Linked DNA regions of Homo sapiens: region 1 is linked to region 2. A link means that fine-mapping ties the variant in region 2 to the expression of a gene that starts in the linked region. Tissue or cell type: esophagus muscle. Region 2 holds a variant in brackets; the other region holds the start of a gene. All regions are shown on one strand. Distances are between the middles of the regions.

The links. PIP is the estimated chance that this variant, and not a neighbour inherited with it, causes the effect.
Region 1: PRDX4 starts here. The variant in region 2 is fine-mapped to the expression of PRDX4 in esophagus muscle (GTEx, PIP above 0.99).

What each region holds. Positions count from the first base shown.
Region 1 is chrX:23,663,114-23,671,113 of GRCh38, forward strand. PRDX4 (peroxiredoxin 4) reads left to right here and starts at 4,380. Exons shown (of 7, transcript NM_006406.2): 1 at 4,380-4,698. The coding sequence starts at 4,458. RefSeq lists enhancers at 1,361-1,895, 4,139-4,433 and silencers at 4,183-4,362, 4,713-4,842.
Region 2 is chrX:22,889,044-22,897,371 of GRCh38, forward strand. All of the region lies in intron 3 of PTCHD1-AS (PTCHD1 and PHEX antisense RNA), which reads right to left. Among named protein-coding and RNA genes, the nearest start is that of DDX53, 110 kb to the right of the region's middle. The variant G/A (reference allele first, on the strand shown) is at 3,740.

The sequences.
Region 1 (8,000 bases), 770 kb after region 2:
TTACTGTCTTCCATGTGCAGATAAACACACTGAGGCTCAGAGAGGTTGAATAAACTTACCAAGGCCACAAGGCCAATAGATGGCAGAGCTCCTATTTGAATTTAAAAATACCTGACTCCACAACCTGTGCTTTTAACTACCATCAGTGGTGGTTCTTAATTTGCCCATTTGTGAAACCTATTTGTGCCCATTTGTGAAACCAAAAATGCTTGGGGCCTCCCAAAAACCTATTGAAACATCATTTCTAAGCCAGGCACGGTGGCTCATGCCTGTAATCCCAGCACTTTGGGAGGCCGAGGCGGGCGGATCACGAGGTCAGGAGTTCGAGACCAGCCTGGCCAGCACAGTGAAACCCCATCTCTACTAAAAAAATACAAAAAATTAGCCAGGCATGGTGGTGTGTGCCTGTAATCCCACCTACTCGGGAGACCGAGGTAGGAGAATTGCTTGAACCCGGTAGGCGGAGGTTGCAGCAAGCTGAGATCATGCCACTACACTCCAGCCTGGGTAACACAGCGAGACTCCATCTCAAAAAAAAGAAGGAAACATCACTTCTGGGCCTGTAATCACAGCACTTGAATGGTTTTGTTGGTTGGTTGGTTGGTTTTGTTTTTTTGTTTGTTTGAGACGGAGTCTCACTCTGTTGCCCAGGCTGGAGTGCAGTGACGCAATCTTGGCTCACTGTAATCTCCGCCTTCCAGGCTCCATCAATTCTCCTGCCTCAGCCTCCTGAGTAGCTGGGATTACAGGTGTGCACCACCACGCCCGGCTAATTTTTGTATTTTTAGTAGAGACCGGGTTTCACCATGTTGGTCAGGGTGGTCTTGAACTCCTGACCTCTAGTGATCCGCCTTTCTTGGCCTCCCACAGTGTTAGGATTACAGGCGTGAGCCACCGCGCCCAGACAGAATGTTTTTAAGCTCCCCAAGTGTTTCTGAGGTGCATCCTGGATTTGGAACCTGCCCCCTGTCTCTGATGGTTTTGTATTATTAATATGGGCTACTGACTCCAGCTGGATGGTAAGTATCTTGAGGGCAGGGCCCCCACCTCAAGCTTCCTTGTTGATGTCACTGTGATATCACAATGTCTGCACAAATATCATTGGATGAAAGGATTCAGAGCAACTGCCACCCAGAATGTCAGTTGCCAGGGAGCTCCAACAGAACTGAGGGACGAACAGTAGGTGCCTGAGAGCTGGCCGATCTGGTCACTCTCTCCAGTGGGCCACAGGGGCCCACTTGGTGGGCAGTCTCTGCTGCCAGCTAGGGCATCTCAGCTCAGCCCAGAGCAAAGACGTGTAGGGACATAACGCTTTCCTCAAGCTTCCTTTCCCAGGTCCAAACTTAGAGGCCCAGTTTTGGGCCTAGAATTCACTGAGGTTTGTGGCTGTTTGTCCAACAGTCACCATGGATCACCGAAGCCGACTACGGGGCACAGGCCTGAACCGAATCCCTGGGACTCAGTCCCGAGCCCCCCGAGTCCCACTCCCCTTCCACGTGCAACAGGAGGCCAGGGAAGGAGAAGACTGGGAGCGAGAGCCACCTCGTCAGAGGCCTCCTATCTATGAGCCACCAGAAAGTGAAGAGCTGCCAGATAATGTTATGGGTAAGGACACACCCTCCCTCAGCAGAAGGAGGCTGGCATCATCTTTTTCATCCTTTACCTCCAGGAAGCAGGGGCCGGGAGGCAGAAAGCAGAGTATACAGTGGGCAGAACTAGGGTGAGGGATGAGTTTGGAAAGGGGAAATTTTCTATCTGCCACAAAAGATTGTTTCACAAGGAGTAAGGATAAAATATGTGAAAGCAACTTGAAACTGAGGCTGTCTGCAATATTAGGTGTTATTTATAAAATCAGGTGTTTGCAATGTCAGTTGCTTACTGTGGGCCAGGTTCTTTGGGAAACAAAGACCTATTACACATTGATTTCAGCCCCAGACAGCCCACAGTCTAGTAGAGGAAAGACAAACTTAGGATGGTTTCTGCAGGATTCAGAAAGATAACAGGTGCTTACAGAAAACAAACTTAACATGTTCTCACTTAATTGTGGGAGCTAAAAATTAAAACAATTGAACTCATAGAGATAGAGAGTAGAAGAATGGTTACTAGAGGCTGGGAAGGGTAGTGGGGGGCTGGGGAGGAAAGTGGGGATGGTTAGTGGGTACAGAAATATAGAATGAATAAGACCTAGTATTTGATAGCACAACAGGGTGACTATAGTCAATAACAATTTAATTGTATACCCTAAAATAACTAAAAGAGTATAATTGGATTGTTTGTAACACAAATGATAAATGCTTGAGGTGATGGATAACCCATTTGCCATGATGTGATTGTTACACACTGTGTGCCTGAATCAAAATATCCCATATACCCCATAAATATATATATATACATATACATATATATATACATATACCTACTATGTAGCCACAAAAAATTTTTTTTAATTTAAAAAGAAAGATAACAAGCACTTGCAGGAGGACAGAGGGCACCCTGGGATCATACAGGCTCATGCCTGTAATCCCAGCACTTTGGGAGGCCAAGGTGGGCGGATCACAATTAGCTGGGCATGGTGGCGCGCACCTGTAATCCCAGCTACTCGGCAGGCCGAGGCAGGAGAATTACTTGAACCTGGGAGGTGGAGGTTGCAGTGAGCCGAGATTGCCACTGCACTCCAGCCTGTGCGACAGAGCGAGACTCTGTCTAAAAAAAAAAAAAAAAAAAAAAACAACCTAACACAGGGTTAAGTTGCAACATTGCCTGTTTGCCCCATAGTTCCTTTCCAGCTGGAAGAGAAGAAATGGTCTAGGGATATGGCTTTTCAGGTTAGACTTTTCTTCTCCAAGTTTTCTGGGGACCTGAAAAGGGCTCCGACTTGAGAGAGGAGTCATGGCTGTTCACAAAGATCACTGCAAGGAAAAGAATAAGAAATGTCTGTTAGAGGGATAAAACGCGAGCTATTCAGAGGCAGAAAGGTCAGTTTCCCTTTGAGGGGCGGGGGTGGCGTGGGATGAGGAGGCTTTTTGGGAGAGATGGGCGTGGAAGGATGTCTAACAAGTGCTGGCGGCGAGGGTCGTTGGCACTTCAATGGTGGGAAGACAGCCATGGGCGAAGCTTTGTGGAAGAAATAGGTGTGAAGGATGAGAAGGCCTACAACAGTGCTGAGGGCGCGAGGCCAGTCACCTGCGAAGTTTTGTGTACAAGATGGGCCCAGAAGGATGAACAGGGTCTAAAACAGTGCTGAGGGTGGGAGTGCAGAAGATCGGTCACAAGTGACGACACAAGGTGGTCTTAGTCCAGTTGGTGGACGCTCGGTGGCCTGGGCCTGCCCCCAGTGCGCAGACGCACACGGCAGGTTGCAGCGGCAAGCGGGGCGGTGCCCACGGCGGGGAGATGGGTGGGGAGGGCAGGGAAAAGGCCAGGGGTTGGGTGATGGGGTAATTGTCAGAAAAAGGAACAACACTGCTGGGAGAGTTTTCTGGTAACTTTTCAAGTCTTCATTTAAATTAAAAAAAAAAAAAGCTGTCTTTGAAACAATAGATTAGGTCACTAAAAACTGCCTGTACGCCCTTGCATGCTGGAGGAAAGTAAATGGTTAGACCTACCCTCCCTAAGTTTTTCCAGGACTTAAAAGAGCTGCAAGTAGTGCAGATCATGGCCCCGTTCACACAAATCACTTCAAGAAAAAAAATTAGTAAATGTCTATTAGATCTTGAAACTTATTCCTGTCTATCTGGAACTTGGTAACCTCTGACCAACAACTAACTCCCCATTCCTTCCCTCTCGCCTCGCCTTCCCTACTTCCCAACCTCTGGTAAGCAGCAGGGTAAATACAGTCAATAATAATGTATATTTCAAAATGAATAAGAGTAAATTTGAAATGTCTCACCATAAAAGTCATAGGTAAACAAGGCGATGGATAAGTTAATGTGATGTAATCATCCCACATTGGATACATATTTCAAAAAATCACATTGCATCCCACGAATGTATACAATTATGATTTGTCAAGTAAATATAATTTTTAAAAACGTTAAGTGACTTTTTAAAAAGCTTATTAGAAGTATAAAATGCAAGCCATTCACAAGCATATAGGTTAGATTCCGCTTGTGAGGGGCTTGTGTGCAGTGGTGAGGCTTTGTGGAAGAGATGGACGTGGAAAGATGTCTAAAACAGCGCGGAGGTCAGGAGACCTTGTCGCTGCCTTCACAGAGTTGGGCAACGCTCCCGGTCCTGGTCAGCCGCGGGACGCAGGCGCAAATGCAGGCTTGGGATGGGGGAGGTGCGGCCGGCGCCCACGTGGCGGGGCGGGGAGCAGATAGGGGGGGTAGGGGGAGGAGCTGGTCTCGCGAGGCCGCGCCCCGGTTCGCGCGGGCGTCGTGCACGCGGTTGTAGCTGCCCGGCGGCGGCAGAAGCGGCGCTCGCGCCAAGGGACGTGTTTCTGCGCTCGCGTGGTCATGGAGGCGCTGCCGCTGCTAGCCGCGACAACTCCGGACCACGGCCGCCACCGAAGGCTGCTTCTGCTGCCGCTACTGCTGTTCCTGCTGCCGGCTGGAGCTGTGCAGGGCTGGGAGACAGAGGAGAGGCCCCGGACTCGCGAAGAGGAGTGCCACTTCTACGCGGGTGGACAAGTGTACCCGGGAGAGGCATCCCGGGTATCGGTCGCCGACCACTCCCTGCACCTAAGCAAAGCGAAGAGTAGGTGGTGTCCCGCCAAAGGGTGGGAGGGGAGATTCCGGAGACACGTGTACCCCGGTTACACCCCCGGAATCTGGGCTTGGGCGGCACCCCCTGGGCTGCCTCCGGGCCCTGGGCGGGCCTGGTTCTCACCTAGGAGGGCGGGGAGGGGAATAAAGGGGAGTTCTAGCTGTGAAGAAAGGTATGGTTTCCACTGATCAGATTTTAGAAGAGGTAGTGGTTACCCCAAAAGCCGCAGCTGAGGGAAAGTGGGTGGCCCTAGTCCCGAGTTTGCATCGAGGATGTTGGGCAAACTGAAACAGTTCCTGAAACATCTCAAAGTGCCTTCAGCACATCCTGTCTTTTTCAGGTACTATTTCAGCGAAGGAAGACATTGATAGGTTGAATAATGATTCACAAAAAGTTTGATTAAACAGAAAAGTTGCTAAACACAGTGCTCGGGAGGTCAAACATTTCATTTTTCTTTCTTCCTTTTTGTTTGCATCTTACAAAGATTATTACTGAAAGCCACCTTCCCCAAAGCCTGTGTAGTTAATGGATATTCCTTATGTTTCTCAGACATGAAGAACCTATTACAGAGTGTACTTTTGAGGGAAATGGGGGAAAAGGTTAGAAGTATGCATTTGGGTTGATGATAAACCTCGTGGCAAATTTGTGTCCTGCCAATTTGGTTTTTGATTATTTGCATTTCTGTCCAGTGTACAAAGCTAATGGCCACTTTCAGGAATGACACGTCAGACGAAGTAGATACTGTGAAAGTTGTAGCCTGCTACATCTGGATGTTAAAATTAACCAAAAGTGAACAGTGGCTATAGATAAAGGCTGTCTCTTGCTTGCTATTCAGTAACCTGCTTTTCCTGCAGATCATTTGACATTCTGTAGGTGTGTAGTTGGTTTTTATGGTTCAGTTACAGCATGTTCCATGCCAGTATTCAGTGAAAAAAGTAATGCTTCAAATTCTGAATCCCTAGAGTTAAATGGAATGTTGTTATGACTTAGGATGGGTTGGTTGGGAGTGATAAATGAGAAAAACTGTTTTGTCCTCTTAAACATTTACAGTTCTTACTTGCTGAAAGTAAGTACTTTCAGTTAACCACTTTGGGACTTTTTTTTTTTTTTTATTTGAGATGAAGTCTTGCTCTGTCACCCAGGCACCCAGGCTGGAGTGCGGTCGCGCGATCTCGGCTCACTGCAACCTCCGCCGCCCGGGTTCAAGCGATTCTTCTGCCTCAGCCTCCCAGGTAGCTGGGACTACAGGCGCGCACCACCACACCCGGCTATTTTTTGTATTTTTAGTAGAGACGGGGTTTCACTATATTGGCCAGGCTGGTCTGGAACTCCTGACCTCATGATCCGCCTGCCTTGGCCTCCCAAAGTGCTGAGATTACAGGCGTGAGCCACGGTGCCCAGCCTACTTTGAGATTTTTAACAAAACCAGTCTTAAATTTTAAAATCAGTATTTCCAAGTCCCACTGGTTTTACTTGCCTGGGAAAGTATTTTAAATATGTCAGCCAGTTAAGTGTTTACTTACATTACATATATTTTCCATAGGAAACAAATCTACTTCAAAGCTTTCCCTTTACCAGCAAAACTTAACATTTTAGTTGTTTACTACATTTCTCTGTCACATGTAGGCTTATCTATAATTAAAGATACAAAGACTTTTGTTAGTAAAGACTATTATGGAGCCATTAAGGCCATATTTTCAAATAATTTTTAGTAATATCAAAAACTGTTCATAATTAATTTACTGTTTCCTTTAAGGAGAAAAAAAAGGCGGGATGCAACACGTGGCAAATTTGTGTTTAAAAAAGAACGGAAAGGCCAGGTGTGGTGGCTCACGTCTATAATTTCAGCACTTTGGGAGGCCGAGGCCATCCGATCACCTGAGGTCGGGAGTTCGAGACCAGACTGGCCAGCATGGTGAAACCCTGTGTCTACTAAAAATACAAAAATTAGCCGGGTGTGATGGCGCATACCTGTAATCCCAGCTACTGGGCAGGCTGAGGCAAGAGAATCCCTTGAACCCGGGAGGCGGAAGTTGCAGTGAGCCCAGATCACACCACTGCACTCCAGCCTGGGCGACAGACTGAGACTCTTGTCTCAAAAAAAAAAAAAGTAAATAACTAAAATTAAAAAAAATAAGACTAGAAAGACAGACATCAGAATGTTAACAGTAGTTGATGGGAGTTATGGAGAGAGAGGATTTAAGTATTCTTTGTACTTCTCTGCATTTACCAGAATCTTTATGTTAATTACATAATTTATATTCAAGACAATTTTTGTTTTTTTAATAAATGCAAGGGATTGCTTTGGGAATTCCATTTATAGATCTTAGCAAAGTAACTACCATTCTTAACCAAATATTTCCAAAATCAATTTTCAGAACAAAATTTATTTTTCAAATATGGTTTTCCCAGTATGCTAAAATCATTAAGGCGTGTCATTGTAATAGATCATTACAATTATTATAACCTCTCACTTGAGTAGCATTTTAAGTAATTTATTTAAAGTATATATAATTGAATACTCTTCTGCTGTCTATTTCTCCCTCCTGGCCTTTACCTAATCAGATCAGGATTATATATATGAGGTAGGATGCTGGCTCAAGATAAGTAATCATATGTTATATATTAATTTTTAAGAGAAATTCATGTTGTTTGTCTCTATTTTGGAGTGACCATAAATGGTGGCTGTTACAGAGAAGTATAAGCCTTACTTTCTAGGACCCTTAGCCAAACTTAGAAGCAAGCATTGACTTCAGTGTTTGTAAGGGGTCTGAAAGTATAAGTGCTATCTGAATGTGTTAACAGAGCATGAAGGTGCATTAGTATCTAAGTGTGTTGGCTAAAATTACTGTACGCCCTTACAAGAGAGCAGCATGAACTGTTCAGTTTCCATTGGGTCACTTGAAACCTGTTCAAGGGAGTCTTCTTTCAAAGCCCTCTAGGAAAATGATCCCATGGTCTGGGATTTTACACTTCTGGCCTGACATATTTGTACATTCCCTCCTCATTTTGTGTAGCCTCATCTGCAGCAGGTCCTCCATGTGTATGTCAGAAGCTGGACAAACTAGTACATCTGGAAGACTGCCATTAGAGAAAGGAAAATCTAATTATTTGAAATGTAGGAAGTTGACAACTTGAAGCGGGACTATAGTGAAGTATCCAGGAGGGTTTAGTGCAGGGTAGAATTTAAGGGGTCTGTGAGCATGAATAGGGGAAAAAAGTATTTATTTTCACTAATCCCCATCTGAAATTTAGTGTTTCCTTCTATTATGAATGTCAGCAACAAACTACAC
Region 2 (8,328 bases):
TTCTTAGGGTCTAGTACTGTTCAGGCACTTGATAAATAACTGTTGAGTGAATAAATAGATGTCTTTCTCCATCAAGCCATCAAAAAATATTCCAAATAGTGTTTGTCTTTATAAGCTCAATTTACAGAACTTAACAAAGACCTCACTTAAATTTGAGTGATGTTCTATATTAAACTATGGGGACTAGGACATTCACAGGTGATTCTGTGTGATCATCATTATTATTATTATAAATGATGTTGTGACAAGAAGATGTTACTCACCAGTGAAATAACAACTTACATCAGGAAATTAGAGCAGAATAGTCTCTCAGCTGAGCCATTGTTTGCTTATTTATTACTGGTGTTCCATATTTGGACAATATCTGCCTTCCACTTCATAGTGGAAGTAGAGTACTTTTAGTGCTCTGATTTCAATGAGTGTTCAGTACCTGGGAACATATTCCTAAGAGGCCTACTAGTCACTCATTGTAGAGAGTAAATTATATATAATTATTTCCATAAACATTTACCGACTTCATTTATGTGTGGGATAATGTACTAGGTCCTATTGAGTTTGTCCAATGATTAGGAAAGAGATTAGTCATCAAACTAAACAAAGAAAAACCCAGTTTAGCCACAACACAAACCACTCCACCTTCTTCAATACAGTTTAGAATATTTTTATTCAAGTGCATTCTGCAATATTTAAATAATGTGCATGAAGGGAAAAAACAGAAAATCTGGAAAATTTTATTATTCAGTTGGAATATGCTAGCATGTTTGTGTTAATACAGTAGCTACCTTTAATTATTGGTTAATTTAAACTACTTCTCATTCTTTTATCTTAGCTCTTTTTTTCCCTCCTAAGGACTTTAATGTGACTACATCTTGGAATGACTTCCTGCCTTTGCAGGAAACAGGCAGCTTCCTGACTGAGACGGAAGTTACTAGTCCTTATTGCCGGTTCGTTTTCATTGTCCTGGTTGCCCTCAAGGTTATCCCCAACCTCAGCTCCAGTTGTCTGTTTCCCAAATTTGACTGGGCTTCCTTCATACTATATTGCATGACAAGGTCTAGCAAAAGATTAGCTCAGTCTCAACTCTGTAAAAATGGTTTGCCATTTACACTTCTTTCTTTCAGCTTCACAGAAGTGCAGTCTGTGCACTCACACAGGATACCACACTCAGATGAGCTGCATGCTGTCATTATTTTGAAATGTTTAATGATTTTATCTTTGAACTTGTGTTTTACAAGTAAAGTCCAATGGGACCATGAAGTATGCATTATGCATAATAGCAAAGAGGATACGTAGAAGAAAGAAGAAAGCTTTATATTTTAACACTTCCTTTGTGCTTGTTCAACAAGAGGCCCTGCAGTTCCATTTTGAACTGGGCTTCACAGATGATGTAGCCAGTCCTGCTCTGAGGAGAAATATTGGAAAATGGGATCCAAACTAGAATTTCTCCTAAAGAAAACGTCAGAGAACTTGACTTTCAAAACTGCTCTTTGAATATCATCAAAAGTTTTGCTATAGTGAATCTTTATGATAAATACAGTACCTATCTAGTAAAGCAATTTAATTATCGCAGGCTGTACTAATAACCATAATAAACTCCACTCCAATAGTATTCTACGTAGACAAGTCTTCCAGCCTCGGGCCTCTCCTCATTAAACTGCAATTAGTATGATAAATGGAGAGTGTGATTTTGCTGCAGCCAGTATTAGCCCTACTTACTCATGAGGTGACAGGGGAAGCCATCAGAGACAGAATTAAAAATATTTAAATAACAAGGAAAATGGTAGGGTTTGCTGCCTTCTGGCCATTAGTCCAACACATCTGTGTGCAGGTACATCTCACACATTTCAGCTGTAACTGATGAAGATCTCAGATAAGCACTGATGTTAATAGCAGTTAATACAACCCAGTGACTAAACATAGTCTGTCCTTGGAAGGTCATAAGTGTTGTGAGAATTCAAGATGACTATAATCTTAACAAAGCATTAATGGGCAATCTGACTAAATAAGATGGCTGCTATGGAGGACTTCTAAAACACTGTGCATTCTTAATCAGGTGATGAGATATTTCACATTTGCTAATGGTATAGTCCCCACGGCATTGTAGTACCACATATATTAACATTTATTTAATTTAAAATGCATCCCTTAACAAGAACGCTTTGGTGGATATGGCTTTATTGAAACCTAAAGCTAAAACATATTACATAATTGGATTCTAATCTGTGAAGGCATGCTATACTCCAGTAATCAGATTTCCGGAGAATCCCTGTATCCTTGCAGTATACTCAGTTTTAATCTGAGTTTCTCTGAATAGGTTTCTGTTCCTTAACATCAAATATTCCTCAAGGAAAGATAGGTTGAAAATTATAATTTTAATAAATAAATACTGAGGGGAAGAATACCTTACACAAAATACTCTGTCACGTTCTGCTAGATTTTTAAATTCTTTTAAAAGAAGTACCATCTACTATATTTGATTTTACTTGGTCAATGCTAGAAATGATGGTTATTTTTATTTTGTTCTCATCCAAATATTTTATCACCAAATGGAGAGGGCTACCTTGGCTTTGGGTTGCATTGATTCACCATTAAAGTTTATTGTAAATGTGATTTAAAAAAAAAAAAAAAAGGTATAAATCCACATTTTATTCAGATTTTTGTGTCCTTTAAAATAAAACACTAAAACATAGTGTGTCAAGGACTATAATCTCTTGCAAATGACCCCAAGCCTGTGTGTCCAGTCCTGACATTTGTTTCTGAGATCTGCACCCAATTCCAAGCCCTCTACCAGGACCTCCATTCACAAGAGGCTTCCAAGTGATCTTCATCCTTTGTTTTCTCAGTTCACTAAAGAGCAGCAAGCTAGGATTCATCTTGATTGCCTCCTTTTCCAAAATTTATTTAAATTTTGTCATCAAATCCTGTCAATTCTGCCTCTAAGACATCTATCACATTCTCTTCTTTGGCACTCCCACAGACATAGTGGGGAGTTATCTCTATAGGTTCTGTTTTTAGATTTATCAATATTTCCCTCCCTCATAGAATTGCCATCTCCACTACTGTTACTGATCTTGATACTGTACACTGCCACTACATCTTTACTTTGTACTTATGGGATATACAAATATTTCAATTAACTATGACTTCAAGATTAATGCATAGATTACTTAACTAAATTACTACTTAAACTTTATGTATTAACATCATTAGAATATAAAAATATTTATCAAAACAGAAAGACCTCTGTACCTGTTAATAGTATGTATTAATTTGAGCCTCAATTCTCAAAATAAAAACAAAAATTAATGGTGAGATGAAGAATAAGATGATATTTACTATCTATGCAGAGCATTTCCCTTGTGCCAGGCATTGTGTTAAGGATTTTACATATATTATCTCATACAATCTTTGTAAAAACCTAGTGAAGTAGCTTATCCGTCAAGTGCACGTTTTAATCATACTTTGTCTTCTACATACGAAGAGAAACACTGGTGTCTGCTAGCTGATCTGAAGCATCAGAGCTTGTCTTGAAAGTTTGCTGCTTTTAGTGACAAATGTTTCTCATCACATGCTTACTCCTATTATTCCAGTTAGGGCCTTATCGCTTCAGATCCTGTTGGCCTTAGTGAAGAAAAGTTCCTGCAAGAGGCATACTACCTTGCTTTGTGTGCCTTCATTCCATCAGCTTTCACATCCTGCCCTTCCCCTGGTACCCAGCAGCAGGGTTGAAAAAAGGCCA[G/A]GGGGTACATGGTGCGATAGACACTTGGTGTGACTCATCCTCTGAGAGTTTGAAGTATGGAAAATTTGCTTATGCCAGTCATTGCTATCCTTCTATCTCCTTAAGAACGATGAATCTGTATAGATGGATCTCTCACTGTAGCAGGCCCAGAGCAGAGTTTTCTTTTTTCCAACTTGCTTTTCAAATAATTTTTACTCTTTTTCTTTTTGAATATGTCAGAAAACACTTGGAACAACAACAACAACAAAAAAAAACACTGAATATTCTTTACTGATGTTTCCTCATGATCTCAAATGCATTATGCCTATCCATACTCTATTAACACGTTCAAACTGTTTGTCATTACATTTCATTAGGGGACAACATTCAATCTTGACTCATAAGTACAACTGCATTGGAAAGCAAATGGGGTAGAAAGGGAAGAAAAGACTTACTATGGCTGGCCACTAGCCCTTCCTCTTAATGTTCTTCAAGCCAACTTTGACTGGATTTTTCAGGCCTCAGCAAGAGGTTATACACTGTACTTAAGTATCCATTTATCCTCCCTTACGCTTCACCCTCTAAGAACACTAAATGCTTGTAGTTTTTCTAACATGCCAAGCTTTTTCATATCTTGGTACCTCTGCAAATACTGTTTCCTTTGTCTGGAATATTTTTCTCCCCCTTTTTCACCTGGTAACGTTAAAGACACTTGAAAATCTAGTACAGATGACTTTCCTTTTAATCAACTTCGTCCTGGAAAGTTAATCACATTTTCAGTGATTAACTTGTAGATATGAAGTACTATTGATACATATATCACTTGGGTTATAATGTCCTTCTTTGTATGTCCATTTCTATTTCTTCTTGAGAGTAGAGCCCATTCCTAGTGTAATTCCCTGGCACTTAGTAGTTCCAAAATTTACAAAAATTTAGTTGCTGAATACCAACTAAAAAAAATCTGAAATTACATCAATGTTAGGTTGTAGATTTTTATTTTCCTATGCTGGACAATATAACCTTTTCAGTGCAGAGATACTGTTTCCCCTCTATTTGCTCCACTCACTAGAACTAAAGTACATGCAATGTCCAAGAGGACTGGTGATAGGTAATTACTCTTGTCAGGTGCTTTCGACTAGCATCAAAATCAGGCCCTTTATAGCACATATTCATATAAATGACAGCTCAAGTCAAACCTATCTATCTCCCGAAATAGATGAAACCATTTCCCACCCTTCAAACATTCTTTTCTCTTCTCTAAGGTTACGTCAAAAATCATCATCATTAATAGTCAACATGTCCACTTCACTCAATGAAACTTCCAAAGAATTTGTTATTCTTTTAGAATTCTATACGAAATAACATCCTTCCAAAGCAACTACGAAGCTCCAAAGAAAACACGGTGGAAAAGATACCTGTCATTAGCAGATATCTACCAATATTGTCATCAGTATTATCACTGTTATCATTGCATAATAAAGGCCTTTGTTATCAAATTACTTCATTTGAATTAATATGAAATCACTCATGGCATTTTTTCATTCATTCACCGATTGATTTATTCCTTTTCTTGCACCTCACCTCCCTCATAATTTTTGACACCTTATAACTTTTTTTTAAACTGGAAAAGTATAATTAGATGACACAACAAGAATTAAAACACATACTCACTAACACTCTCTCTCTCTCTCTCTCTCTCTAATTCTGATGAAAGATGGAAACCATGTTAACTTCCAGTTCTGGTGAAACTTTTGACTGTGAAATACATTTATGGAATTCTGTAAGGCCTCTGTAAAATGTGGCAAAATCAAGCAAGTTTCTCAAAAACCATGTAGGATATCTAGTTAAGTAAAAGGATAAGAAAAAAAGTATCTTTATAAAATGGGAAGACTGACATTATGTCTATTATTAAACAGTGCTTCTTGTTGGAAGAACAGATGATATTCTGAGAGAAATAAACACTCTTGTCCATTTTTATATCATGAACAAACTAATATTTCTAGGGAAGAGGAAAGATGGTCCTTCACGTTCTCTTTGAAACAGGAATATTCCCACTATACAGAAGAATTGTATTTTAGAAAGACAATTTCATGAACTAAGGCTGAAAATCTCCCAGACCATGGCTGCTATGACTTCTCAAATCAGCAATCATGCACAGAAAAGAGTGCTAAAAGAGACCCCTCTCTTTTCTTCCCATCCTCAGCCTTTTTCTCTCTATACTTTTCAAAAGCTCACAGACAGTAAATACCCACACAAAAGAGGAATCACAAATGACAAATTAAAGGTAAGTTTCTCGCATTTGCCAGAGAGGATTTAGAAAATGTGCCACAATTTTATACAATGCTGGTGCAGCAGGTGAGTCTAGAAAGTCATTTTGGTTTTCGATTTCAGAAATAATTCTGTTTTATACTGGCAGATTAACACTCTTCCAAAGATGACCAAAGTAAGGCCCAGAATTAAGTCATAGTTGTACCTCTTCTGCTCCTTTTTCTGTCTTGCTGAATTTAATAATTTACTCTTCAACATTCCACTAAAAGTATTGCCAATTTTATTAGTCTTTAAATCGGCCAGAAAAAGACATACCACCCAATAGCAAAATAGCCAAGAATTCAAACAAGAATGAAAAGGGGTATTTAAATACCCAACGAATATGTGTGAAGGTGTTCTGAGTTGCTAATCATCAGAGAAATGCAAATTAAAACCACAACGAAATATCACCATATACTGAATAGAATGACAAATTTTTAAGAAGACTGAAAATCTAAAATATTATGAGGATATGAAGTAAGTAGGAATTCCATAAACTCTTGGTAGGATTGTAAATGGACTCAACTACTTTGTAAAACTGACACTTTCGTCAGCACCTACACAAGTGGAACACAAGCATATATATATTTTCAACTGAAATATGTACAAAAAAATCCATGCACAGGAGTGTTAATTGCAGCTTTCTTCATAACAACCCAAAACAAGAAACAACATAAATGTTCTGCCACAGTAAAATGTATAAATATTTGTGGTAGGATCAACCAACGAAATGTTATATAGAAATAAACATTAATGATATACTGCTATACATAGAAAATACATGAAATACACAACATAATGTTGTTGGAGAAGCCAGACACAAAAGAATACATACCTGACCACTTCGTTTACGTAAAGCCCAAAAAAGTGAAACTATTCCATGATGTTAGGAGTCAGGATGGTAATCTTTGGGCAGGAAGGGGTGGTGGTGATCAGAAGGGGCGACAAAGGGGGCTTCTGGAGTGTTGTTCATGGTCTGTTTCTTGTTCTGCATAGTACGGTTACACACGTGTTTTTACTTTATAAAACTTACTGATGAACACTTTTGCTTCACTGCTCTCTATGTATGTTATACTTCAATTAATAAGTTTATTTAAAAAGAAAAGAGAGACCATGACAAGTACTACTTATACACTAAGTTTGTGTGAAATACTTTTTTTTTTTTTTAACTGTTAATCTCCAGATAGTCCCTTTAAATCCTTTTCCTCTCCCCCTAACCTCCCCAATTCCCACTTTATTTGACTCCAGCTATGATGATTTCTCCCCTGGCAGCAGCAGCCTGTAGCCCAGCCAATGTTCTTGCCTGCAGTCTGGTCTCAGTCCTATTCATTTTCATTCTTTACTTTGCAAATAGGATATTTGTATTTTTAAAAACATCCTGTATACAAAATAGTGTGACAATAAATGTACAGTTTAGCGAATATGAACAGAAAATAATTTCGCAAAATCAACACCTTTCTACTTACACCATCCTGCTTAAGCAACAGACACTAGTTTTTTCAAATCTGTTGTCCCTTGACAATCCCAATCTCCATCTTTGCATCAGAGGTATTCAATATCCTGAATTTGGTGTTAAACATCTCCTTGCTTTTATTTATAGTTTTATAACATAAGGTAGTAGTTGTAAACTAAATATCAACACTAACTAAAAATAGTTTGAGCAATATTTTGTTTGGTTTTCCTTGTTTTGATTTTTTTGTTGTTTTACTTGTTTTGAAATTTAAGTTATGGAATCTCACAAGTGTATTCGGCTGTAAGCTTTTTTTTTTCTCACTGGTATATTGGTATGTTACTGAGATTAATCCACCCAGATGCCTGGGCCTTTATTCCATTCTTTTTTCACTGCTGAACAATATCCATTGTATAAGTACACTACAAATTACTTATTATATTTTTAATATGTGTATTGTTTTCAGTCTTTTTGTCATTTCAAATAGCAATCTTATGAGCATTCTTTTGTGTACCTCTTGAATATGTACAAGAGTTTGTAGGTTATACATCTAGGAATGGAACTACTGGGTCCTCAAGTATGCACATTTTCAAATTTACTAGGTAATGCCAAATTATTTTACAAAGTAATTGAACCAAAATGATTCCCCGTTGTCTGCATCTTTACTTAGTGTTGTCATTATTTTTAGTCATTCTAGTTAGTGTGTAATTTTATCTAAACATTTCCATATATTCAATGGCATTTCATTTGAATTTCCTCTTCTATGAAAATACTAATCATGTAATTTGCTCATCTTTCCCCCTCACCGTAGCCTTTTTCATGTTGATTTCTGACAGTATTTATATACTCTGAA